Homo sapiens: one gene and its partners. The protein of the gene in region 2 interacts with the protein of the main gene of each other region in a pairwise test. Each region holds a gene or a part of one and is shown on either strand. Other genes may lie near its edges. The genes, in order: METTL27, CSTF2, CDC73 and TLE3.

Region 1 (5,457 bases), on a different chromosome or scaffold from region 2:
TCAGGGGAGATGAGAGCTGTGAGCACCGTTTGTAAACTTTGCACATTGCGCTGCCCGGGCAGGTGTGTTTCCCGTCTCCTGCTGTGTTCTTGCTCAGCGCTTTGTTCTGCTCTGGGCAGAGGGCTCAGACCCTGCCCTCTGGGCCTTGATCTCCAACCCACTGGGGCCCAGGAAGGGGCCAGAGAGCACAGGGCCTGGTCAGAGGTGGCCCCACGAGAGCCGTGAGTGCTCACTGCTCCCAGAATTTATTTATTTATTTAATTTGAGACAGAGTCTTGCTCTGTCACCAAGGCTGGAGTACAGTGGCACAATCTCAGTTCACTGCAACCTTCACCTCCCAGGTTCAAGAGATTCTCCTGCCTCAGGCTCCCAAGTAGCTGGGATTACAGGAGCCCACCACCACACCCAGCTAATTTTTGTATTTTTAATAGAGATGGGGTTTCATCATGTTGGCCAGGCTGGTCTTGAACTCCTGACCTCAAGTGATCGCCCGCCTTGGCCTCTCACAGTGCTGGGATTATAGGCATGAGCCACTGTGCCTGGTCCTGCTCCATGAATGTAGAGAAGAGAGGCATTTCCAAGACCAGGTGAGGAATCCACATGGGGTGCACCCTAAGGCAGAAAGGAGAGGGGCTGAGCATGAGAACGAGGAGGCGCTGGCTGGCTGCAGGACAGGAAATCATAGAGGTAAAAATGCTTCCTCTCCCTCCCGTCTCTGCCAGGCCCAGCAGAGGCTGTGGCTAAGCCTGGGCAGGTCTGGGCAGGCATCTGGGGAGCCCTGAAGGCTGACAAATGCAGGGACACGGATGGGGTCAGCTGGAAAGGTCGAAGTTGGGCCCAAGAAGACAGGAACTTTCTACTGGGTGAAGCAGCCAGGATCGGACTTCCTAGCCCAACCTGTGCTTGCTAAGCCCTTCAGCCCCATCAGGCTGCCCATGGGTGACAGTCTCCCCTGCTCCGGAGCCTCTCCTCTCACTGCGCTCCCTTCTATCAGCAACACCCTGCTTCTCCTTACCCCCTCCTCCAGGAAACCTTCCCAGACCAGTCACTTGGGCTTCCCCATCTCTCCTTCTCAGTGCACTTGGGGCCACCCTGGGCACGCACACTATAGGTGCCTGGACCTGAGGTGACAAGGCCATTCAGCCGGCACTTACTGTAGGGCACTTCAAACACACATACCAGCCTTCCTGTGATGTTAGATAATCATCCTCTCTGTGCCAGCTGGGAAACTGAGGCCCAGAGAGGTGAAGGGATAGCCCAAGATCCAAAGCCCACATGGGAACTTTCTTCCTGTCCATTCAGACACAGTCACATCCTCCAGCAGAGGCGTGGGTGAGTGGTGAGTGGTGAGGAGGGTGTCTCCTCAATCCAGGAGAATTACGTCAAGAATTCCCCACCAGGCACAGTAGCTCACCCCCATAATCCCAGCACTTTGGGAAACCGAGGCAGGAGGATCCCTTGAGCCCAGGAGTTCAAGAGCAGCCTGGACAACATAGCAAGACCCCATCTCTACAAAAAAAAAATGTTTAATTAGCCAGGCGTGGTGGTGAGCACCTGTGGTCCCAGCTACTCAGGAGGCTGAGGTGGGAGGATTGCTTGAGCTCGTGAGTTGGAGGCTACAGTCAGCTATGATTGCTCTGCTGCACTCCAGCCTAGGAAATAGGGTGAGATCCTATCTCAAGAAAGAAAAAAAAGGGGGGGTGGGCAGGCACAGTGGCTCACGCTTATAATCCCCAGCGGGCAGATCACCTGAGGTCAAAAGTTCGAGACCAGCCTGGCCAACATGGCAAAACCCCATCTCTACAAAAAATACAAAATAGCCGGGCGTGGTGGCACGTGCCTGTAATCCCAGCTGCAAGGGAGGCTGAGACAGGAGAATCACTTGAACCCAGGAGGCGGAGGCTGAAGTGAGCCAAGAGCATGCCATTGCACTCCAGCCTGGGTGACAGAGCAAGACAGGGTCTCAAAAAAAAAGAAAGAAAGAAAAAGGAATTCCCAATGTAAAAGACACAGAAAGACTGCCCTGGGAAGGAAGCTGGAAGAATTTCTTTTTCTTTTTTTTTTTTTTTTTTATTGGAACATTAATTAGGTTTTATTTTCACTTTTTGTTTCCACAGTAACATGTATGGGATTAGGTTACAGTGTTTATTTGTCCCCAATCTTTTATTTATTTATTTATTTATTTATTTATTTATTTATTTTTAATTGATTGACTTTTTATTTTTTTTTATTTTTTTTAAATTTATTTATTTATTTATTTATTTTTTATTGATAATTCTTGGGTGTTTCTCACAGAGGGGGATTTGGCAGGGTCATAGGACAATAGTGGAGGGAAGGTCAGCAGCTAAACAAGTGAACAAAGGTCTCTGGTTTTCCTAGGCAGAGGACCCTGCGGCCTTCCGCAGTGTTTGTGTCCCTGGGTACTTGAGATTAGGGAGTGGTGATGACTCTTAACGAGCATGCTGCCTTCAAGCATCTGTTTAACAAAGCACATCTTGCACTGCCCTTAATCCATTCAACCCTGAGTGGACACAGCACATGTTTCAGAGAGCACAGGGTTGGGGGTAAGGTCATAGATCAACAGGATCCCAAGGCAGAAGAATTTTTCTTAGTACAGAACAAAATGAAAAGTCTCCCATGTCTACTTCTTTCTACACAGACACGGCAACCATCCGATTTCTCAATCTTTTCCCCACCTTTCCTGCCTTTCTATTCCACAAAGCCGCCATTGTCATCCTGGCTCGTTCTCAATGAGCTGTTGGGCACACCTCCCAGACGGGGTGGTGGCCGGGCAGAGGGGCTCCTCAGTTCCCAGTAGGGGCGGCCGGGCAGAGGCGCCCCTCACTTCCCGGATGGGGGGGCTGGCCGGGCGGGGGGCTGACCCCCCCCACCTCCCTCCCGGACGGGGCGGCTGGCCAGGCAGAGGGGCTCCCCACCTCCCAGTAGGGGCGGCCGGGCAGAGGCGCCCCTCACTTCCCGGATGGGGGGGCTGGCCGGGCAGGGGGCTGACCCCCCCACCTCCCTCCCGGATGGGGCGGCTGGCCGGGCAGAGGGGCTCCTCACTTCCCAGTAGGGGTGGCCGGGCAGAGGCGCCCCTCACCTCCCGGACGGGGCGGCTGGCCGGGCGGGGGGCTGACCCCCCCACCTCCCTCCCGGACTGGGCGGCTGGCCGGGCAGAGGGGCTCCTCACTTCCCAGTAGGGGCGGCCGGGCAGAGGCGCCCCTCACCTACTGGACGGGGCAGCTGGCCGGGCGGGGGGCTGACCCCCCCACCTCCCTCCTGGACGGGGCGGCTGGCCGGGCGGGGGGCTGATGCCCCCACCTCCCTCCCGGACGGGGCGGCTGGCCTGGCGGGGGGCTGACCCCCCTACCTCCCTCCCGGATGGGCGGCTGGCCGGGCAGGGGGCTGACCCCCCCACCTCCCTCCCGGATGGGGCGGCTGGTGGGGCGGGGGGCTGACCCCCCCACCTCCCTCCCGGATGGGGTGGCTGCCGGGCGGAGACGCTCCTCACTTCCCAGACGGGGCGGCTGCCGGGCGGAGGGGCTCCTCACTTCCCAGACGGGGCGGCTGCCAGGCGGAGGGGCTCCTCACTTCTCAGACGGGGCGGCCGGGCAGAGATGCTCCTCACCTCCCAGACGGGGTTGCGGCCGGGCAGAGGTGCTCCTCACATCCCAGACGGGGCGGCGGGGCAGAGGCGCTCCCCACATCTCAGACAATGGGCGGCCGGGCAGAGACGCTCCTCACTTCCTAGATGTGATGGCGGCCGGGCAGAGGTGCTCCTCACTTCCTAGGTCGGATGGCGGCCGGGCGGAGACGCTCCTCACTTTCCAGACTGGGCAGCCAGGCAGAGGGGCTCCTCACATCCCAGATGATGGGCGGCCAGGCAGAGATGCTCCTCACTTCCCAGACGGGGTGGCGGCCGGGCAGAGGCTGCAATCTCGGCACTTTGGGAGGCCAAGGCAGGCGGCTGGGAGGTGGAGGTTGTAGCGAGCCGAGATCACGCTACTGCACTCCAGCCTGGGCACCATTGAGCACTGAGTGAACGAGACTCCATCTGCAATCCCGGCACCTCAGGAGGCCGAGGCTGGTGGATCACGTGCGGTTAGGGGCTGGAGACCGGCCTGGCCAACACAGCGAAACCCCGTCTCCACCAAAACCAGTCAGGCGTGGCGGCGCGAGTCTGCAATCACAGGCACTCGGCAGGCTGAGTCAGGAGAGTCAGGCAGGGAGGTTGCAGTGAGCCGAGATGGCAGCAGTACAGTCCAGCTTCGGCTCAGCATGAGAGGGAGACCGTGGAAAGAGAGGGAGAGGGAGACCGTGGGGAGAGGGAGAGGGAGAGGGAGAGGGAGAGGGAGAGGAGGGAGAGGAGGGAGAGGAGGGAGAGGAGGGAGAGGAGGGAGAGGGAGAGGGAGAGGGAGAGGGAGAGAGCGTCCCCAATCTTTTAAGTCGAATTTCTTGCCTTGAAGGGACAACCATCCCCAGCAGAGATGGCCCAGGACTGTGGCTCCTGCCCCTCCCCCACCTCACCTACCCCTCTCCCCCAGGTGGGCTGGTGTGTCTGACCACCAGGACCAACTCGTCCAACCTTCAATACAAGGAGGCTCTGGAGGCCACCCTGGACAGGCTGGAGCAGGCTGGGATGTGGGAAGGCCTGGTGGCCTGGCCTGTGGACCGCCTGTGGACCGCTGGGAGCTGGCTACCTCCGAGCTGGAGGTGGTATCCGGCATCTCTGCCAAGGATGGCTTCATCTCCGGCATTGTCTACCTGTACCGAAAGTGGAAGGCGACCCAGGTTGAGGAAGTGAGATCCAGCCCCCAGCCCCCAGCTGGCCCCTGACTCCATGTGGCCTTAGCTGGGCCCATCTGCTGGGCCTCCTCTGCCTCCCCTGTAAAATGGGACCTCCGAACCAACCCTGCCCCTCAGAAATGCCCTGCCTATTAAATGAGCTCCCAGAAAACAGTGGCATCTGTTCCTGTGGGTTCCAGAATCGAGACGTAGCAGGGTGTGGTGGCTCACACCTGTAATCCCAACAATTTGGAAGGCCAAGGCAGGAGGATCTCTTGAGACCACGAGTTCAAAACCAGCCTGGGCAACATAGTGAGACCCCTATCTTAAAGAAAAATTGTAAAAATTAACACTTTGGGAGGCCGAGGCGGGAGGATCACTTGAGGTCTGGAGTTCGAGACCAGCCTGGCCAACATGGCGAAACCCTGTCTCTACTAAAAATACAAAAATTAGCTGGGCATGGTAGCACACCCCTGTAATCCCAGCTAGTTGCGAGGCTGAGGCAGGAGAATTGCATGAGCCCAGGAGGCGGAGGTTGCAGTGAGCTGAGATGGTGCCACTGGGTGACAGAGCGAGACTCTGTCTCAAAAAAAAAAAAAATTGGAAAAATCAGCCAGGTGCCGTGGGTGCATGCCAGCTATTTGGGAGGCTGAGACAGGAGAATCACTTGAG
Region 2 (7,030 bases):
ATAAAAGAAACTGCACTGAATCTGGAAGGCAAGATTCATTCTGAAACGGCCATAACTGAAGTACGGCAATTCTATTTTTGTCACATTTTAAAGCACAAAAATTTCTGCTGTCAAAAATGTATCAGATGGGGAAATGCAGTGAATGAACTTTACATGATGAAAGAGAATATCACTCCACAAGAAATACTCTGCCACAGCAAGTCTTTGATAATAAACATCATGACAACAGCAAACAAAGACTAATGAGATGACATGGGAACCGACACTAAACAAACATGGCAGGGAAGCAAGAAGTATCTTCTCAAACATCTCCATCTCCTTTCAGCATTAAAAGCAGCATGGATTTCAGGAAAAGTAAGACAAACTAGGCACACACGAAAAGACTCTTGCTTCCTCTGCTGGGTACTGAAGGAAACTATAAAAGAAAGCTCATCTCACTTAGTCTCTGCATGAAGACATCCTGGAAATACCCTCAAAACATGAGTCACTTCCCTTTGCCAATTTCTGACAAAAAGGTGAAGATAACTATAATAGGAAGATGTCTTGTGCAAGTATGCGTTAAACAGCTAAAACCTGATGGATTGAGGGCTGGCCCCATGACAGGCAGAAGTATGACTGAAACCCTAATACCTTCTCATTACTGCAGAAATACTCTGGGGAACATATATGATCTATTGACAGTGGTGCGGTGGGGATAGAGGGATGTACAATAGCACAAAAGCATTGGATGCTTAGAGAAAATATGAGATATTTGGCCAGGGAGTTTGTCCTGCTGTCAGACTTCTAACAAGAAAAAGTTAATTCTGTCACTTCAGCAACCAACCCCAGTGTAAAAACCACAGGCTTGTATATTAATGTTTATGTATGTATGTGTGTATATATATGTGTGTGTGTGTGTATATATATATATTCTTTGAGACAGGGTCTTGCTCTGTTGCCCAGGCTGGAGTGCAGTGGTGCCCGATTATGGCTCACTGCAGTCTCAACCTGTTGGGCTCAAGTGATCCTTCCACTTCGGCCTCCCAAGTAGCTGGGACCACAAGTGCACACCACCATTGCCCAACTAGTTTTTGTATTTTTTATAGAGACGGGGTTTTGCCATGTTGTCTAGGCTAGTTTCAAACCTCTGAGCTCAAGCAATCCACCCACCTCAGCCTCCCAAAGTGCTGGGATTACAGGCATGAGCCACTGCGCCTGGCCAATATTTTGCTTTTTAAATGGGTTCCACTTATAAACCATATGCTACAAAAGAAAAAACCTTAAGCTTCTCTATGCTTGTCCAAAGCAGTCTTTCCCATCATTTTATTCCCAAGGAATAAGAGTAGAAGACACTGAAGAATATGCTTGGAAGTTAACAGAGGCAGTGTGGAGTGACAGAAAGAGGACAGATTCTGGAGTCAAAGACTTCTGAATCTTAGCTCTGCCACTTACTAGTTGGAAGAGAAAATAAGAGCACCAAATCCAGTCCACATTACTCATACATTAATATTTACTTACCTTGTCCCCTTGAGAAAGTAACTTATTCTGAGCTTCCAACTCTTTGCCTGTAAAACTGAGGTGCTGCCACCTAACTCACAAGATTATTTATGAAAATTAAAGTGCCTGGCATATAGTATGCACTCAGTTCCTTCTCTTTTCTTACGATCTCTCCTCCTAACATTGTTTCCAACTGAACCACTGCACTTTCTTGTCCTTCAAACTCCAGTAACATGAAGAAACAACATGGAGATTTTGGAGCAGCAGCTACTGTTGTATATAGCAGTACAGCCACGGTACAACATATGTTCATTAAGTAGGCGTTACAGACCTATGATTCCCTCCCAGTTTTCTCTGGGGTTTAAATCTAGTCTTCTACATACCCAGCCACATATTTACATGCTCATTATTAAAATTCCTTACTCAGTCAACAGATATCCATACAGGGAGAGAGAACATGTCAGTGGAATTATTAGACTAGGAATCAGGAAACAAACGATCCACTTGCTTCATTATCAATTCTTGTAGAGCTGGACTCTGAATCACCAGGTGGAAAGTCTAGACCAGCACTGTCCAATAGATCTTTTTACGATGATAGAAATGTTCTATATCTGTAATGTCCTGTATGGTATCCACTAGTCACCTGTGGCCACTGAGCACTTGGAATGTGGCTATTGTGACTGAGGAACTGAGTTTTAAATTTTACTTAATTTTAATTAACTTAATATTGAAATAGCCATGGGTGGTTAGTGGCTGCCATATTAGATACTGTGGATGTGGAACACTTCCATGACCAATTAACATTAGTCAGACATTAATATTTATTTACCTTGCCCCCGTTCCATGGACACTGGTCCACTTCCTGGCATTCCAACCTGAGCCTGCATTCCTCCTAGAAGATAAAGGGCAGACAAGAAAAAACACCAATTAGAACAGCGGAAAAGAAAAATTAGAACAGTGGCTGAGTTTACAAATTTCCTCATTCTGCTCCACAAGCAGAAACCTACAAAGGAAGATATTCAACAATGCAATGAGAGAGAAGATGGGGTTTGTTAGTATATTTACAATTTGTACTTTATGTTTCAGTGACAGAATAGTGAGTTCAATAAGAATAATTCATTTCATTGGTTACCAAACTCTTGGCAGGAAGCTCTTCTATAATACAGGAAAACAATGTCACTTACCCATGGACCTCCTGTCATGAAAGATAATTTAAATACAAGTATAACTCTATTAGGATAAAGTAGATACATAACAATCCTAAAGTAGATACAAAAAATTCCTGAGTTTGCAGAAATTTCTTCAAAAAATCTCTTCTTCCATTCCTCATCAACTTAGCTCTGCAGACTGGATTCTCTACAGAACAGAACAATTTAGAATTAAATCATTCTCCATGAGTAGTGTTGTACTCAACCTACCCTAGATTAGATAAATTAACAAAAACCAAGTTTGTTACATAAAAAAACTTTAAATATTGGTAATACATCATGTGTTCATACAGATGTTTCATATGGGGAATCATTATTTCACTCAATCTTCTTAGTTACAATTGTTGAACAAGGAACAGTTACAAGTATATGAGCAATACTCTTATTAATTGCCGATCTATACATTTTCAATAAATGTACATAGCTTTTAAATTTCTCTTTTTCCCTTTTGTTGTTTGTTCTGATTATGTTTGTTAAAATACAATTTTATGTCAGTTTAATATGCTATAACAAATGTGACCTTGTATTTTTTTGTCTGTTTTCTTCATGAGCTTTTGAACCTAATCTGACAGTTCATTCATATTTAGCAGAGTAACAACTACATTAGTTTTTATTCCTTCCATCTTACTCTACATTTATTATTACTTATTTTACACTGTCTCTTACTTTTTTCCTCTTCTCTATTTTTGCTGGCTTGATTTTGTTTCCACTCATTCCATTTTCCCCCTTGTTAACTTGGAAGTTTTACTATGCTCTTTCACTTTACTGTCCCTTTCCCTGTTCTTATAATTAGACATACAGGATTTAACGTAAGAAATCTACTATTTCCTCCACCTAAGATATATACTTTCTAGCTGTGTATTAATTTTACCTAAGGATCCCATTATCATATTTGGCTGCACTGCAACAGTGGCTATGACAAAACTTTAGCAAGTACTGAAATGGTGAAGACTAAATGAAACTTACCTCCAGGAGCTAAGGAACCAGGGCCAGGTCCTGTGACAGCAGCTGGCATTTGCCCTGGTGCTGGAACTCCACCCTGCATAGAAGCTTGCATCAGAGGAGGTGCGCCATTGACATGCATTCCACCCTGACCAAGCAAAAAAAACAGAGTATGTATATGCCTCTGTGGATACTCAATATACTAAGTCTACGACCTTAAAAGTCCTCTTCAAATGAACAGCCCCAAATACACTACTAAACATCCTTTTTGTATGGCATGTCTTATGCAGCATTAGATTTGTCACACACTTTAAACTCCACAGAAGCAATATACGTCATGAGCCTGGTTATATGGAACACGGTTAAGATGGAACATATTCTCAATGTAGAGATTGACAAGTCTTATCTGTGTGGCAAGGCAGCACATAACACCTACTGTTAACTTCATGATTGGGGCTGCCAATAAGAGTAAAAAAAAAAAAAAAAAAAAGCCCTAAACCCAAGAAACATAAAAGGAGACTGGGACTCTTTTAAAAAAAACAACTGCTGGTAGTCCACATTTTTAAAATTAAATTTTTTTTTTAATTTAACCAATCTTTTCTCACTCCTGTCCTTAGATATAATTCTGGTTTTGGGGGAATGTGAAATATATTTTTTTAAATGCTACATTAAAACTCGTTGAGAAAAAGAGAATGTCATCTTTTCATCTGTGCATTCCCCAAAAAACTGAGTAGTCCCTTGAATTAGAAACAGCTCAATAAATAAAGAATAAAAGCCAAGTTATATAAAAAAAATCACATATACGTTTAAGGAACACAAAACTCTACAAAAGAAAAGGAAGAGCTGTATAGGAAAGTAGTTAAGAGAAAACTGGCTGTGAGGTCAGATAAAACCAGGTTCAGAAATAGATCTGCCACTTATAATTGTGTCAATTTTTGGACCAGCTAACCTCTCTGGGCCTTAGCTTTTTTTTTCTATCTCTGAAAATGTATTTATTTATTTAGAGCAGGGGTTGGCAAACTATGACCCATGGGCCAAATCGGGCTCACTGCCTGGTTTTATAAACAAACTTTTAACGGAACACAACCACACACACTTGTTCACTTATTGCCTATGGCTGATTTCATACTACCATGGCAGAGTAGCTGTGGCAGATCCTGTGACTTGCAAAGCCAAAAATATTTACTGTCTGATCATTTACAGAAAAATGTTTGCTGGTCCCTGCCCTGTACCTCTGCCAACCTGAGAGATGAAAAATGGTAGCTTATTGTAGTTTCTATTTACATTATCTTATAACATTACATATATAAATGATAATTTATTACATTATCTTATTTTGAAGTTGAATAAATTTTTATATATTTATATTTCTCCTTTTGTGAAATATTTATGTCTATTTCCCATTTTTCTACTGGGTTATTGGAAATTTTCTTACTAATTTATAGGAGGCCTTTTAAAATTTATTATGAAAAATTACAGATATACAAATCATATAGAAAATAAAATAGCCACCCAGCTTAGGAAATAAATAAGTAAATAAAATAAACCAATGGCCTGTACGGTCTTCCCCAATTGCATCCTGTGCTCTCTTCTCCTTTGATGACCACTAAGACGTCTTCTTAATGTTTCAAAATTTTATATGAATCATTACATACTCAATATATTATTTTGCAACTCATTCCACATATTTTGGGGATTTATGCAGAAACATATATCCTACATTTCGGGAATGCATCCATATTCACTTAGTTTCATGTCCGTATGTCACTGTTTTGGAGTTGTGTTGATATTATGTATCCTAGTTCATCTTAACTGCTGTATGGAATTATGTTTTTCAAAGTCATTCATGTTGATACGTGTAGTTTATTTAACTGTTGTACAGTATTTCACTGGATGAATGTACCACACATTTTCTCCATTCTTCCACTGACGTACATTTAGGACATTTCCAATTTTTCACTCTAAGGCAATAAACATTCTTGTGAATGACTATGGGCTCTTTATTAGTCTGTTTTCCATCACATGTGTGGTAAATACTTTTTCTCAATTTGTCATGTCTTTGATACTTATTTTTTTCTTTATATAGAAATTTTTTAGTTTTCAAATGTATCAATTTTTTATGGCTTTAAGGTTTTGTGTCATGCTTTGAAAGCAAGCTTTACTTTTTTCATCAGTAAGAATGGAGATAATAAGAGTGCCAACCTCATACAATTGCTTTGAGGATTAAATGAGATAATGCATATGGAATAACGAAGTGCCAACCACAGTGCCAGGCATGCACATACACACAAAGTTAGCTTATAAGAAAAGGGCATACGGGAAGGATCTCTTTGTTTTACAAACTTGGAATCGAATCTATATTCATTCAGATGTCATGTGCTCTGCAACCTGGAAATTGCTTTTATGCCTGGAAATTGAAATTATCATCTCTGGTTCCTGACCATTCTTCTTTCAATATATTCTCCTAAAAAGAAAATGACATTCTAAGACAGATACAAAAAAATGTTAAGGGATAAAGCCCTACCAAAGACTGGGCCTGAGGGGCCTGAGGATTCTGCTGGTTCATTGACACATTGGATCCTGAGCCAGGCCCAGCACCATGGACTGGCTGAGGGTTGCCTGCAATCAGCGTTGGGATATTTGTCTGGCGATGCAGAATTTTCTAAAAAGTGAAAAGACAAACCTATGAGCTGTCTGTTTAACAAAGCAATCAGGTAGTTCCTATCCCATTCAAGGTTTACCCGACCATTTCCATAAAAGAACCAGAAGCACTCACCAGGGCAATTTCCGGATCCACAATTCTCATCACTACCTGTGCTTGCAGCAAAGCATAAGCCAGTTGAGGGTTCTGAAGTAACATGTTCCGTGCCTCCTGGGGACTATTCTGGACACAGAGCTGAGAAGATAAGCAGATTCAGGTTTAATACTTATGACTTAGAAACTGATAGTGATTTAGAGCCATTCCCCTCTGAGAAATGTAATATTCAAGAGGCTCTTTATCATTAGTTTTTGCATGGCACAAAAAAACCTTGGTCATGGCAGGCAAGAGAAGAAAGAGGCATTTCAAATACTGTGATATTATCATTTAGGAAAAAAGCCAAATTTTAATATCTACATCTGACATCTATGGGCCACAAAACTCCAGCTGGATTGTTTGGATAGCTGTGTTTGTGTACAAAAATAGAAAGCTCTTTGTACAAAATGTAAAATATACTGTGTACATACAGAATATTGAAGGTGCAAGAAATGGTGGTCTACAGACAATTTCTATTTGAGCTCAGGGAACTAATTCAAGTAACTCCTTGAAAACCTGATGTGATTTGCTTTATTCATAACCTAATGCCTCCTCCCACCTTCATTTGTTTCATCAGCTCAAACATCTGCTCTGGTGGAAGGCTGGCAAC
Region 3 (7,030 bases), on a different chromosome or scaffold from region 2:
AAGTTGTTTATATAAATGAATCCAGCCTGAAGAGTTGAATTAGAATTGTCAGTAAAAAAAATCTTGCCTTAATTATTTCAGGACTGGAAAGGAAGGCCAACCCAGAGAGTACTACACATTGGATTCCATTTTATTTCTACTTAATAACGTGCACCTTTCTCATCCTGTTTATGTCCGACGTGCAGCTGTAAGTAGAATTCATTTTACTTATCTATCTATTTATCAGTTTTATTTTTATTTATTTAAGAGACAGGGTCTGGCCTTGTTGCCCGGGCTAGGGTGCAGTGGTGTGATCATAGCTCATTGCAGCCTCGAACTCCTAGGCTCAAGTGATCTTCCCACCTCTGCCTTCAAGTAGCCAGGACTGCAGGCCTGTGCCACCGTATCTGGCTAATTTTTTTTGTTGTTGTTAAAGATGAGGGGGTCTTGCTGTGTTGCCTAGGCTGGTCTTGAACTCCTACCCTCAGTGGATCCTCCTGCCTCGGCCTCCCGAAGTGCTGGGATTACTGGCATGAATCACTGTGCCTGGCCAATAATTCATTTTAAAACTTTTTTTTTTTTTTTGAGATAGGATCTGGCTCTGTTGCCTAAGCTGGAGTGCAGTGGTGTGATCTCGGCTTACTGTACCCTCTACTTCTCGGGCTCAAGCCAGCCTCCCACCTCAGTCTCCTGAGAAACTGGGACTATAGGCATGGCCCACCATGCCGGGCTAATTTTTGTATTAACACATTTTTTTTTTTTTTGGCTTCGTGGTAGTAGGTATCATTTGGAATGGATAGCTTCCCTCATGGGTTTCAAATCAAAAGAATGAAAGGTTTGTATGAGTGTCTCCAGGAGAGTCAAAATTAGGTGACTGTGTGACTTACACAGACTTTTTAATCTGTGATATTTTTTCATGTAAAGTGTGGGTAATGTTTATAACAAAGGAAGTTTTAAAGGGATTTATAGAGCCAGGCTTCTTAGTGCACGCTGGTAATCCCAGCTACTTGGGACTCTAAGGCGGTAGGGTTGCTTGAGCCTAGGAGATCAAGACCAGCCTGGGCAACATAGTGAGATGCCATCTCAAGAAAAAGAAAACCCGAAACGCTAAAAGTATTTATAGAGATGTTTAGAAAAACTTGTAAGCCTGTGGAAGGACCCTGTTACTTCAGAACTCTAGTTTAATCTCAAGAAAACTTTTTTTGGTTGTAAGGATTAAGATTAGCAGACATTTAAAAAAATTGTTTCTTAATCAGTTTTGTGCAGCTGTTTTAGTACTCTGGAGAAGTTCATTTGTTTTTAGTTTTGCTTGCTTTCTCAGTGTTTGAAAATTTATTACTCAGAGGAAATATTTGGAAACAACTTGAAAAGAACTAATTTCATAAACTATGATGATGAGATTCTTCATCTGTAGGGAAGTATCATTAAGACCTAAATTATAGCAGTATATTATAATTGATAAGTAAATAAGATTCAGAGTTATTTGGATAGGATAGCTGTATGACATGGAAAAGTACTATAATGCCCACATAAAATGGCCTAAAAGATATTTAATTTTTTTAAATGAGCTTTTCCCTCAGATTATTTTTGGTAGAGTTGAACATAAAATTTTTTGAAGATATAATTGAAATAATTAAATGTCTGCTTTTAATATTTGTTGCTTTTGCTTACAAGTATACACTTAAAATTAAGTATGAAATGTATTTATAAATAACTACTTTTTCCCATTTCTTATAGTTCTTAAAACAATCTTCTTAAACTTTTCTTATAGTTCTTAAAACAATTTTTTAAAATATCACTGTGTCTGTCATCACTGGAGCTGCTTTTTGAGTTACCTAACACCGTTGCTGGATCACATTAAGCTGTGTGAAACTTAACTTCTATAACTCTAACCTCCCTCCCAACTAGAAATAGTTAAGGTTTCTGGCTTATGTATCTTTCAAACAATAACTTGTTGTCTAAAGCAACTAAAAGCCAGGTGTGGTGGTGCATGCCTGTAGTCCCAGCACTTTGGGAGGCTGAGCTCAAGTGGGAGGATCACTTGAGCTCAGGAGTTCAAGACCAACCTGGGCAACATAGGGAAACTTTGTTAAAACAAAAAATAAAAAAAATTAGTCAGGCGTGGTAGTGTGCACCTATACTCCCAGCTGGCTACTCAAGGGGCTGAGGTGGGAGGATCACTTGGGCCCAGGAGGTTGAGGCTGCAGTAAGCCATGATCACACCAATGCATCTATCCTGGGTGATAGAGCAAAGACTCTGTCTCAGGGAAAAAAAAAAAATGTGTGTGTGTGTGTGTGTGTGTGTGTGATTATAGCAATTGAGAAAGTATCCCGTCACTTAGTGGGCTTTGTATTAAACCATAAGGCTTCTGCTTTCCTGAGTAAGAAATATATATTTATGTTACATATTTAAAAAAATAAAATTAGAGTGGGACTACTTGGGAAAATAAGGGGAAAAAAATAGCACCAGCTCCGTCTTTAAGGTTATTTTAACTCAGATCTTTAAAAACTAAATTAGGTAGTTCTTACAGTGTTTTGTTGGATATATTCATTTTAGTGTAACAAAGATTCAGATAGTTGGCTTAGATTTATAGATTCTGTTTTTGGGAAATGGTTGTGCATATAACTGATAGCTGTAATTGTTACTGTGGACCTTGGGACCCTTGGTTGCATAAGATTTAACTCATTTTTCATAAGTATTTGCCAGATTGAAAGAGTAGGATTCTAAAATTCCAAAATTCTATGAATTCGAGATTGTTGTCTCCTAATTACTTTGTGTTATTTGCTCTTTCCTGTGCGCAGACCACTCATTTTTTTTTTTTTTTTTTTTGAGTGCAGTGGCGTGATCTCGGCTCACTGCAACCTCCGCCTCCTGGGTTCAAGGGATTCTCCTGCCTCAGCCTCCCAAGTAGCTAGAATTACAGGCACACGCCACCATGCCTGGCTAATTTTTGTATTTTTAGTAGAGACGGGGGTTCACCACGTTAGCCAGGTTGGTCTTGATTTCCTGACCTCGCGATCCGCCCGCCTCGACCTCCCAAAGTGTTGGGATTACAGGCGTGAGCCACTGCGTCCGGCTGAGCAGACCACTCTGAAAACAGATTCCTGATCCTTAGTTCCTATTTTAGTGTGAGTAGATGTAATCTTTTTCAGTGGATTGTGATGTGTACATAACTCAGTAGTGACCAAATGATGATGTAAGTTATTAGACTTAGAAACAGTAACTTAAAATTAACTCAAATCTTTTAACTGTTTATGATATTCCATATAGACTGGTTTATTTTTATTTTTTATTTTTTTTTGAGACAGAGTCTTGCTCTGTCACCCAGGCTGGAGTGCAGTGGCAGGATCTTGGCTTGCCACAGCCTTACCCTCCCGGGCTCAAGTTGTCTTCCTCCTTCAGCCTCCTGAGTAGCTGGGAGTATAGCTGGGACTGCAGGCGCTTGCCACCATGCCTGGCTAACTTTTATATTTTTGTAGAGTTGGAGTTTTTCCATGTTGCTCAGGCTGGTCTCGAACTCCTGGGCTCCAGCAATCCACCCACTTTGGCCTCCCAGAGTGTTAGGATTACAGGCATGAACCACCATGCCTGGCCTAGGCTGGTTTAAAAGAATACAAGCACAAAAAAACTCTGCACTCAAATTTTTAAACTCATAAGGAGAAACTAAAATTTAGCTTGACCTTTTTAAAATAAAAGGTTAATTTTTAAGTGATTAAATACAGTTTATCTAAATCATTGAGGAGTCAGTGCAGAATGTTTGGTGCAGTAAATTATAATAAGTATTCAATATAAGGTCATTGGCCAAAGATACTAAAGGTTCTTGTTGTTACTTCATTGTTACACATATAAAGTGACAAAGGATTTAAACTGAAATCTGTTAGCTACCAATTTTTCTTGCACTGTTTGTTTGTGTTTCAGACTGGGTCTCGCCTCAGTCTCCTGAGTAGCTGGGATTATAGGCTTCTGCCATCACGCCCGGCTAATTTTTTTTTTTTTTTTTTTTTTGAGACAGTGTCTCACTCTGTCACCCAGGCTGGAGTACAGTGGCGTGATCTCGGCTTACTGCAACCTCTGCCGCCCAGGTTCAAGCGATTCTCTTGCCTCAGCCTCCCGAGTAGCAGGGACTGCAGGTGCCTGTCACCGCGCCTAGCTAATTTTTGTAGTTTTAGTAGAGATGGGGTTTTACCATCTTGCTCAGGCTGGTCTTGAACTCCCGACCTCATGATCCACCCGTCTCGACCTCCCAAAGTGCTGGGATTACAGGTGTGAGCCACTGCGCCCTGCCTAATTTTTGTGTTTTTAGTAGAGATGGAGTTTGACCATGTTGGCCAGGCTGGTCTTGAACTCATGACCTCAAGGGATGCGCCCGCCTTGGCCTCCCGCAGTGCTGGGATTACAGGTGTGGGCCACTGTGCCTGGTCATTGCTTTATTTCTAATGATTATTTTCTGTATATCTTCCTGGAATTTCAAAAAGAAATTTATTTATTTATTTATTTATTTATTTATTTATTTAGAGACGGAATCTCTCTATGTTGCCCAGGCCGGAGTGCAGTGGTGCAGTCTCGGCTCACTGAAACGCCTGTCTCCGCCTCCTGGGTTCCAGTGATTCTCCTGCCTCAGCTTCCTGAGCAGCTGGGATTACAAGCATGCTTCACCACACCCAGCTAATTTTTGTCTTTTTAGTAGAGACGGGGTGTTGCCATGTTGGCCAGGCTGGTCTTTAACTCCTGACCTCAGGTGATCCACCCACCTCAGCCTCCCAAAGTGCTGGGATTCTAGGTGTGAGCCACCGCGCCCAGCCAAGAAAATTATTAAAAGTAACATGTTTAATACATTTTCAGGATTTTTATTAGGTTCTTTTAGCCTAGTCATTTTGTTCAAATGTGATTTAAAATATATTGTATCAAGATATATTGGAATAAAATTCAGACATTACATGTTAATATCAAGTTGTAAGAAAATTATTAAAAGTAACTAACATGTTTAATAAATTTTCAGGATTTTTATTAGGTTCTTTTAGCCTAGTCATTTTTTACAAATGTGATTTAAAATACGTTTTTTCAAGATATGTTGGAATAAAATTCAGACATTACATGTTAATATTTATTAAGTTGTGTATCATTGTTATTCATTTCATATCTCATTTAAAATTTTGGTTTTAGACTGAAAATATTCCTGTGGTTAGAAGACCTGATCGAAAAGATCTACTTGGATATCTCAATGGTGAAGCGTGTGAGTACTTTTTAAATTGTTCCCAGTCTTAAACAGACATTGTTTCTTTTTTCCCCTATGAAATAATGATTAGAGGGAAGAGAATTTGTATTTCCACCAAAAAATTAACCTACCTTCATTTTTGTCCATGTGCTCACCTTTTTCTTATACAGTGGATGCACTGTCTTTGCCCTTATGGCCAGTCACCCCTTCCTTGTGTGTGGATTCCATCTCCTTTCACAGTCTCAAAGACTTTGTCTTCGTAAATTGTTGTTTCTCTGACATCATCAGTTTTCTACTTTCTTCTGGATCATTCCCTTTTAGAATACCTACAGTAAGATTTCATGTTTAAAAAATGTTTTTGATCCCACATTCCTACTGTCTACTGCTTCATTTATCTCCTCCCTGATACTGTAAAATATTCTGCAAGAGTTCGTGTGGTATCATTGCTTCTTTTTTACCTTTGTTTCTTTCTTGAAGCCACTCTAGTCTGGCCTTCATCCTTACCATCCCACTAAAATCACTCCTTGTAAGGTCAAAACTGATTTAAGGATTGCTACATCCTTTGGTCTCTTGTACCATACTTGACCTCTCAACAGCATTTGATACTGTTGACCACTCATTTTTGAAAGCCTTTCTTCATTTGGCATTTGGAACACCAGCCTCTTGGTTCTCTTTCTACTCGTTGTTCACCTCTCAGTTTATTTTGGTTACTTCTGTACCTGACCTCTAATTCTTGAAGTTTCCAAGACTTGATCTTTTTTTTTATCTTTTCTTTTAACCTGTATTCTCTAGGTGATCTCTTTCAGTTTTATGGCTCAGATATCATATATATGCTGATGAAATTTCAAGTGTTTTTTTCAGCATTGATTTCTTTCAGGGCACCAGATTTATAAATTTACTGTCAACATGTTTCCTTGAATGTTGAATAGGCATCTGAAATTTAACACTGAAAATGGAATGCCTGATTCCCTCTTTCCCTTCTGCCCTCACACAGAACAAAAACAAGTCTGTTGTTTTCTCAGTGTTCCCACTTTAGTAAGGGGTAGTGAGACGCTCTTCCTGCAGTTGCTTAGGCCAGAACTTTGGTGACATCTTTGTCACATCTCACATCCATTCTATCAACAAGTTGTTTTTTTCTCTTTTTAAAAGTATGACAACTTCTTACCATTCTACCTGCCCTATTTCATCCTTGCTTTTTAGATTATTGTATAGCTTCCTCACAGGTCCCCACTCTTTATTTCCTATAGTGTAGTCTTAGCAATAGAGTGTCCTGCTTTTGAAAAAGTATATAAACTTGATTGTGTCACTCACCTGTGGCTTCCCATCACTCTTAGAATAAAACTCATACTTGTTACCCTGGCAGTCATCTTGCCTCTGCCTAAATCTCTGTGACTCCATCTTCTACCATTCTTCCTTTGCTCATAACAGTCAGTCTTTTTGGTCTTTTAGCTATGCTAATCTTAGCACCTTTGCACTTTCTCTTTCTATCTTGAGTTGTCTTTCTCTACATTATCACATGGCTCACTTGCTTACTATTTCATTTAGATCTGTGCTCAAGTGTTTTTCCAAATGTTGTTCCATCAGAGAAGACTTCTCTGACCACTCTTATCGAAAATATAGTATTCCTTTCCTCCTTCTGTGGTTTTTATATAGTGCCATCCTGATTTATTTTTCACCAGATCTCATACATTGACCTGAAATTATATATCTGTTTATGTACATAGTGTCTGTCTTTCCCATTAGAAGGTAAATCCTAAGGGGACAGACAGTTGTTTGTCTTGTTAAATACCCAGCATTTACAATAGTGGTGCATGGTAGGTTCTTAACTGAATAAA
Region 4 (7,030 bases), on a different chromosome or scaffold from region 2:
GCCCACATCAGACCTAGGAGGGTGCTACTATTATTTCCATCTTGTGAATGAGGACGCCGAGGACAAAGTGCTCAATAGCAGCAGAGAATGAATCGAATTTCCACAGTTGGGCCAAATGTGTCCAACCCCAAGGTCATCTCCATCTGTTTCACTGCTGCTTCCTCCAGGAAGCCTTCCCAGATGGCTCAGGTTGGTCCCAAGTCTCTTGGCCGTGGCCACTCTGTGAGGGTCCCTTTGTCCCTGACCCAGCCACTGGGGCCCCGGAGGGAGGGAACACACTGCTCTTTGGGAAGGGAGGAGTCTTGGGCCGCACACCTGGGAAGTGAAGTCATGCTGCTGTAGCTGTCGGCCCTCCCGCAGGTCCCAGGAGCGCACCGTGTTGTCCAGGCCCCCTGTCCACAGTTTGGTGCCATCATGGGAGATGTCTATGCAGCTGGCCCCATCTGTGTGGCCCTGGAACTGCCTACGAAAGCCAAGCAGGGAGGAGGGTGAGTCCCGGGAACCACAGACTGCCAGGTGGCGGCCATCCCAGGGGCAGTCTGAGCAGAAGAGAAAACTGAGGCCCAGAAGAGTGCACTATGCGCATGGTCCCTTAGCGAGCTTGCAGCAAAGCTAGCCCCGGCCTCTTTCCAGTTCCAGGCCTCTTTCCAGTTCCACGGAAGGGTTTGCCCAGGGACAAGTCCCCTGGGAAATGGGGGGGGGAGGTGAAAAAGGGACCTTGCACTAGCCTTCTGAGACTGAGTCCCTCCAGGGTGGGCCTCTGGAGGAGGTGGAGCTGGAGGCTCAGGAAGGTGAGGAAGGCAGGAAGGCCCTGGGGAAGCTACGTGTGAGATGACTGATAAAGAGAATGCAGGGCCCCACTGCCTTTAGGACACAGCTCCTTAACTCGCACTCCACACGCCCTCAATTTGCCCTCTTAATCTATCTCTTCATCCTGCATGAACTATGGGGCTGAGGCCATCCATGAACACGCTGAATAACACACACAGCCCATGTATACAAGAGTCAGCTGGGCCAGGCACCCGTCTGCCTTTGCGCTGCGGCACAGTCAGAGGAAGATGCTCCACTGTCACTGTTTTACACAGGAAGAAACTGAGCCGCAGGGGTTCAGCGACTTGCACTAGGTCATAGTGGAGGCAGGATTCAAAGCCAGCAGTTTTGTCCTGAGGCTTGTTTAGCTACCACGTGATGTGGCTTCCCAGTCGGGTCTCCCTAATCTGGTCTCTGGGGCTCTGCTCCCAGACTCTCTGCTTGCTCCACTAATCTGACCTCCACTTCCCCAGACATGCTCCAGCTCCACTTTCTTCCCAGAGCCCTCTCCAACTCCTGGGCCCAATGGCCCTCCCTCCTCTGTCCCTCGCATAAGGCAGGCGGAGCTGTCTTTTCACCTGTGCATCCCTCATCCCAACGGTTCTGGCCACCCCACAGTGCCTCAGACAGGGCCAAGGTCACAGCAAACAAGACCAGGCAGGATGGGTAAAAACTTCCCCAGGACGAGGCACTAATGCTCCCTCCTGCCGGCTCACCTGACCAGGGTCTGGTTGTGCAGGTCCCAGACAGCAATGTTCCCATCGCTGCAGCAGGAGAAGCAGACTTTGGCGTCAGGGCTAATGGCCAGGGCATAACAGGCGGGAGCCGAGGACGTCAGCTCGGCCTTGATGCGGGGCGTGGGCGAGGCCAGGTCCCAGATGGTGAGCGTGCTGGCCTCGCCGCCCACGATGAGCGTGCGCCCATCAGGGAGCAGCTTGCAGGAGCGGATGTAATTGTCCCTGTTCTGGAGGGAGAAGGGGCAGGGCTGAGTGCTGCCTACTTCCCCTCCTGGGCACCAGGAGAGTCCTGTCCAGCAACACCGAGCACCCTCACCAGTCCTGCTTACAGCCTCCCCCTATACCCAGCAGCTGCCAGGCTGTCCCCATTCCTCAAATTCACAACCCTTTGATCTTTCATGAATACCAGGAGGTCAGAATCAGCCCCACACACAGAAGGCACAACTGAGGCTCAGAGAGGTTAGTCAGCTTGCCTAAAGTTGCTCAGCCAATACGATGCTGAGCCAGGCCCTGGGGCTCTCCCCTGTGGCCCAGGCTGCCCCATCCTCCTACACCAGCTGGAGGCGGCGCAGCAGCCCTGGGATTCTCACCAGGCAGTCCAGCTGGGAGATGGGGCTCTTGCTGCCTGGCTGGCTGATGTCCCAGATCTTCACGCAGCCCTTGCCACCTGTGTAGACGTGCCTCGTGGGGTTGCTGATGGTCACGGCACACACCACCTCCCCGTGGCTGAGTGTGTTGATCTGCCGGGCGTGCCTCGGGATGCCGGGGCCTGCCAGGGCGTCGTGGGGGAAGGGCACGGGCTGCATCTGCCCATCAGCACTCACATGGAATGAGTACGCTCTGAAAAGGTGAGAAACCGTCACTGCTGCCATCCACCCCGGCCCCTCAGAGTTCCCATAGGCCTGGCCCAGGTCATCTGCACTGCCCCCGACTGGCTGCCCTGCCTCTAGCCCCCTCTGCTCTGAAACCATTCGAACCCAGTAACCCCATGTACTGGGATGGCTCCATCGAGGTAGACATGATTAACAGACCAGCTTTGATTTTTACACCCAGTTATATATCCTTGCTTCAAATCAGACCAGAAACCCACAGGTGTCCTGGAATGCCCTTTCCCACGATCCATACATTCCCCCAACATGCCAACCCTGGAAAGGGCCTGGCTGAAATGCCACCTCTTGCTTTAGGAGCCGGTGGTATTAGGGAAGGGATCTGCTTGCCCCTGCAATAGCAAATGGGAAAGTCCATGTCAGAGCCTGTGGTGAGCCAGCCTGGCCTGCCTGCTGTTTCAGGCTCTGGTGGGTGCCCTCTCAATCAGCATCTAGATTCTCGTTGACAATTAGAGGACTGTGTCAGGCAGTGTCTCGGCATTATCTGTAGGCTCAATCTTTTAGTTTCCTAGCAACCCAAGGAAGTGAAGGGCCGGGGAGAGTGTGCCCTCCAGGGGAGGGAAGCACTGCTGACAGGGAAGGGCCTGCGACCAGCGGCACTGGGGCCTTCCCAGCAGGTCGAACCCAAAGGAGTCGGCAAGGCCCACCACAGCTCCAGGTGACTCGGTGAGGAGTGTTCCTTCTCTCCCAGCCCAGTGGCCATGTACTTAGCTAACTCCATGGCTCCTCTGTCGGAGGGAGCTTCTGTGGGTGCTCAGAAGTGTGGCTTGGCTACAGTTTCCTGGGGTTGCAACCAGCCCTCGGTGCCTCTAGAGGGACAGATACCTTTCCAAAGGGAGGTGCACCAGGGCAAACCCTTGGTCAGGGGATGAGGGGCGTTGTTGGAATTGGGGGTAGAGTGCTCTCTCCTGCCCACCCTACAAAGCATGCAGTAAGTATAGCCAAAGCTTACGGTTTTCCTCCAGGAATGGAGGCCAGGCTTGAGGGGAGGCCTGTGGCCCGCATCGGGGGGTGAGGGTCAAAACCAACCTGTAAAGCAAGGCAAGACAGCCCTCCATCAGCCGTGCTGCCACACACCCCCACCCCTGCCTCCTCCACCACCCACCCGGGGTCCTACCTGCACGGCTCTGCCACTTTGTAACCCAAGAGACAAGCTGAGCAGAGCAGAGCCCATTGATTCAGAGGAGACACAGGCCCAGGACAGCCCGTGGCAGGGAAGGGGTGACAGTGCAGACCCCACTGTGAACCAGCATCCTCCCTGTTCTGCAAGGCAGAGCTGGCCCTGCCCTACTTCTTTCCTCTCCTGTGGTCCTAGTGGGCCTGCCAGTGGAGAGGAGGCCACCCCAGGTCCAGGAGGTAAAAAGGAAAACTGTCTCCTGAAAAAGGGCCCCTCTCCCCGCCAACCCTAACTCTTCTTTTTATTTTTATTTTTTTGAGATGGAGTCTCGCTCTGCCGCCCAAGCTGGAGCGCGGTGGTGCAATCTTGGCTCACTGCAACCTCTGCCTCCCAGGTTCAAGTGAGTCTCCTGCCTTCACCTCCCGAATAGCGCCTGCCACCACGCCCGGCTAATTTTTGTATTTTTAGTAGAGATGAGGTTTCACCACGTTGGCTGGCCAGGCTGGTCTCGATTTCCTGACCCCAGGTGATCCACCCGCCTTGGCCTCCCAAAGTGCTGGGATTACAGGCGTGAGCCACTGCGCTCGACCCCTAACTCTTATTATTTATTCACCACAATAGAAAGTCTTGTACAACCAGTCCCATCTACGAGACCCCTGCTCCATGGACATCACCTGACTTGCCCTGGGATTCCTACCCCCCAGAGCTGGGAAAGCCAGGTGTCAGCCCCGTTTTGCAGACTAAAAGGGAGGCTGCCTTGCATGAGGTCACAGGGCGGCTCACAGGCCAGTGGGGGATGGAACTCAGGTCTGCTGGCCCCAAAGAGTGTACCCTTCCAGCCAAGTCTCAATTGTTTCCGATACACCTTCCCACAGGGGCAGCTGCCTGGCCTTGAGACCCTGAGGGGCCCCTTTAGCATGTGGGGAGCACCCGTCCAACCACTGGCTCCCCACACCACGCCCAGTCCCCAAGAAAGGAGCCAAAAGGTCTACGTACAGCTCCAAAGCTCACCATTGGCGATCGGCCATAGGCAGCGGCTGCAGCAGCGGCGGCGGCGCTCATCTGGGGTGGGATGTTGTGGAGGCCGGCGTAGGCGCCAGGACTGGTGAGGGAGCCGTTCATCTCATGGTGGCTCATCATGGCGAAGGGCGCCGCATAGGAGCTGGTGATGGAGATGGGCGTGCGCAGAGCCGAGGCTGCGAGGGGTGGGCGTCAGGGAGGTGGGCCTTAGGTGGATTGGGACATGGCCATGGCCGCCTCACCCAGCAATAACCCTCCCTGCATTCTTAAGCTGCCTGCTCCAGGCAGTCCTCTCAGACTGAACCCACCCAAGTGGGATCCCTGCCTTCAGAGCCAAAGAAGCTTAGAGCTTGGCAGATGCACCCACCTCTTTTTACAGAGCAGGATATGGAGGCCCAAATGGGCTTGCTTAGAGCCTCACTGGACTAATGACAGGGGTGGGAACAGATTTTGGGAGCCCTGACCCGTCTGATGCTGCTTTCATGTCTGGCCCAGCAGGGGTCCCAGAAACCCTGGTGTCACCTCCTCAAATCTGACCGTGAAGTCCCCAGGGGCAGGCCCTGGGAGACACTGCCTGTGCTCTATCCCATGCGTGTGTGTCACCCCTGCCCTGGCCAAGAGCAGACCCCCTCCCCCCAATCAGATTAACCCAGCCCATGGTGCCTACCCATTATACCTATCGGGTCCATGCCCGGAGGTTTACCCGGCATCGACCTGAGCCCTGGGGTCGTGCTGGTGCCTGGAGTTGGGGCGTCGTTCCTTGGGGTTGGTGTGTTGGACTTGAGCCCAGGGGTGGAGGATTTGTCGTTCTGAAGAGGGGAGATGCAGAACAAGGGAGGCCATGAGGCTTCCATTCTCCTAGGAGCCGGGCACAACTGGTGCCGGTCCCAACGTGAAGCCCAGAGCCAGACCCTTATGAAGCTTCTGCCGAACAGCCTCTCAATCCTTGCCCAACCTTGTTTGGCAGGGACTGGGGTGATCACTCCCATTTTACAGACGTAGCAACCGAGGCTCAGAAACGTTAACTCATTAGCACAGGCCCAGCAGGCACAGAAGGTAAACCGGGGCCAATCACCCACCCAGCTTCTCCCACTCCACCCCTCTGCCTGCCAATCGGCACCACCCCAGCTCCAGTCCCTGCCGCTCCCTTCCCACTCCCTTCCACCCAGACCCCACATACATGACCAAGGTCTTTGGTCTTGGAGGAAGGTGTGCTACTGGAAGAGGCCACCGAGGCAGGGCTGGTGGGGGCATCTTTTTTCAGGCTACGGGCCTTGTCCAGCCCATTTTCAGGAGGGGAGTGTGCCGGGCTGACCCGGGGCGTTGCGGGGTCCTGAAAACACAAGTGATGCAGAGATGCACTGAAAGCAACAGCCAGCCTCGAGGCTTCCCTGCTCTGGGAGTGGGAAGAGAGAGGGCATGGGCGATGGGAAGACGAGCTTGGCTGAAAGACTGGGGGCCCCACAGTGAGGAAAAACTAGCTCTTAACCATCTGGTCTGACTGAGGCCTAGGGAGGGTGGAAGGATGGTCTTCCCAATGTCAAACACAAGTTCAGGACTTCAATCAGCATGGCTGGGTTTGGCCAAATGTAGATGCTCTCCAGCTCCTCCTCAGGCCCCTGAGGCTGAGACCCTGGGGGGACGGAGGATCACGGGGAATAGAAGATGGCCCCTACCTGGGATCTTTGGGGGTGTCTCTCTGGAGACCCATTGCAGGAGGCCCTCCAGGCCCATAAATGCCCAGACACCATGCAGCAAAGCCCTGCCCTGCTCCTCTTGACCCCCTGAGACCCCAAGACTGGAGGCCTTGTCTCCCTGCTCAGGCTGCCAGTAATACTAGAACAGACAGAATAGATCCCACCCTGGGGAGGAATAATTCCAAACCATGCCAAACCAAGAGCCCCCTTGCGACCGGGCCTGCCCATACCTCATTGGAAACATCCACCACCAGATCATCACTCTTGTCTCCATCACTGTCCTGCAACCAAGAGAGAAGCCAACTGGTCAGTAAGAGGCCACACTTTCCCCACCCCTGACTGAGCCCAAACCACCCTGTCCTTCTACTGGCCAGGACCTGAAGCCAGGCCAAACCCCAAAGTCCATGCTTTCTACTCCAGCCCTGCCCTTCAACAGGCTCCACTCCAGCTCAACACGGTCTCCCCGTGAGGCTGTCCCCTAGCCCAGGCCCCGGGTTACTCCACTCCTGTACCCACTGGGCAGCCGCACTGACACCCGCTCCATCATAGCAGTTCTAAGCCCCTGCCCCCACAGCCTGCCCTTCTGCTTCTCTCTGAAGCCAGAACCTTCTTCCCAGCTGGTTTTACATCCACCATCCTTCACAGTCAGTGTGCTGCTCTCACCTGGTCATTCCCACCCATCTGTGTGGGATAGTAACTTGCCTCCTCTCACAGAAACACAGCTGAGTGTCCTTTGGGTGCTCAATGTGTCCAAAGCCACAC

The links.
Region 1: the proteins of CSTF2 (region 2) and METTL27 interact in binary tests that used the Homo sapiens proteins (3 or more experiments, as listed by UniProt).
Region 3: the proteins of CSTF2 (region 2) and CDC73 interact in binary tests that used the Homo sapiens proteins (3 or more experiments, as listed by UniProt).
Region 4: the proteins of CSTF2 (region 2) and TLE3 interact in binary tests that used the Homo sapiens proteins (3 or more experiments, as listed by UniProt).

Annotation. Positions count from the first base shown.
Region 1 is NC_000007.14:73,834,090-73,839,546, reverse strand, and holds the end of METTL27 (methyltransferase-like protein 27), read left to right. Parts: intron 1-509; exon of another isoform or gene 510-687; intron 688-4,466; coding exon of another isoform or gene 4,467-4,544; coding exon 4,545-4,804; 3' UTR 4,805-4,957; downstream 4,958-5,457.
Region 2 is NC_000023.11:100,823,378-100,830,407, reverse strand, and holds part of CSTF2 (cleavage stimulation factor subunit 2), read right to left. Parts: coding exon 6,980-7,030; intron 6,523-6,979; coding exon 6,403-6,522; intron 6,289-6,402; coding exon 6,151-6,288; intron 3,775-6,150; coding exon 3,651-3,774; intron 2,369-3,650; coding exon 2,306-2,368; intron 1-2,305. UniProt on the Homo sapiens protein: One of the multiple factors required for polyadenylation and 3'-end cleavage of mammalian pre-mRNAs. This subunit is directly involved in the binding to pre-mRNAs.
Region 3 is NC_000001.11:193,125,031-193,132,060, forward strand, and holds part of CDC73 (parafibromin), read left to right. Parts: intron 1-81; coding exon 82-187; intron 188-5,143; coding exon 5,144-5,213; intron 5,214-7,030.
Region 4 is NC_000015.10:70,052,912-70,059,941, forward strand, and holds part of TLE3 (transducin-like enhancer protein 3), read right to left. Parts: intron 6,550-7,030; coding exon 6,499-6,549; intron 5,905-6,498; coding exon 5,752-5,904; intron 5,381-5,751; coding exon 5,248-5,380; coding exon of another isoform or gene 5,239-5,247; intron 4,748-5,238; coding exon 4,548-4,747; intron 3,464-4,547; coding exon 3,387-3,463; intron 2,388-3,386; coding exon 2,138-2,387; intron 1,775-2,137; coding exon 1,527-1,774; intron 464-1,526; coding exon 316-463; intron 1-315. UniProt on the Homo sapiens protein: Transcriptional corepressor that binds to a number of transcription factors. Inhibits the transcriptional activation mediated by CTNNB1 and TCF family members in Wnt signaling.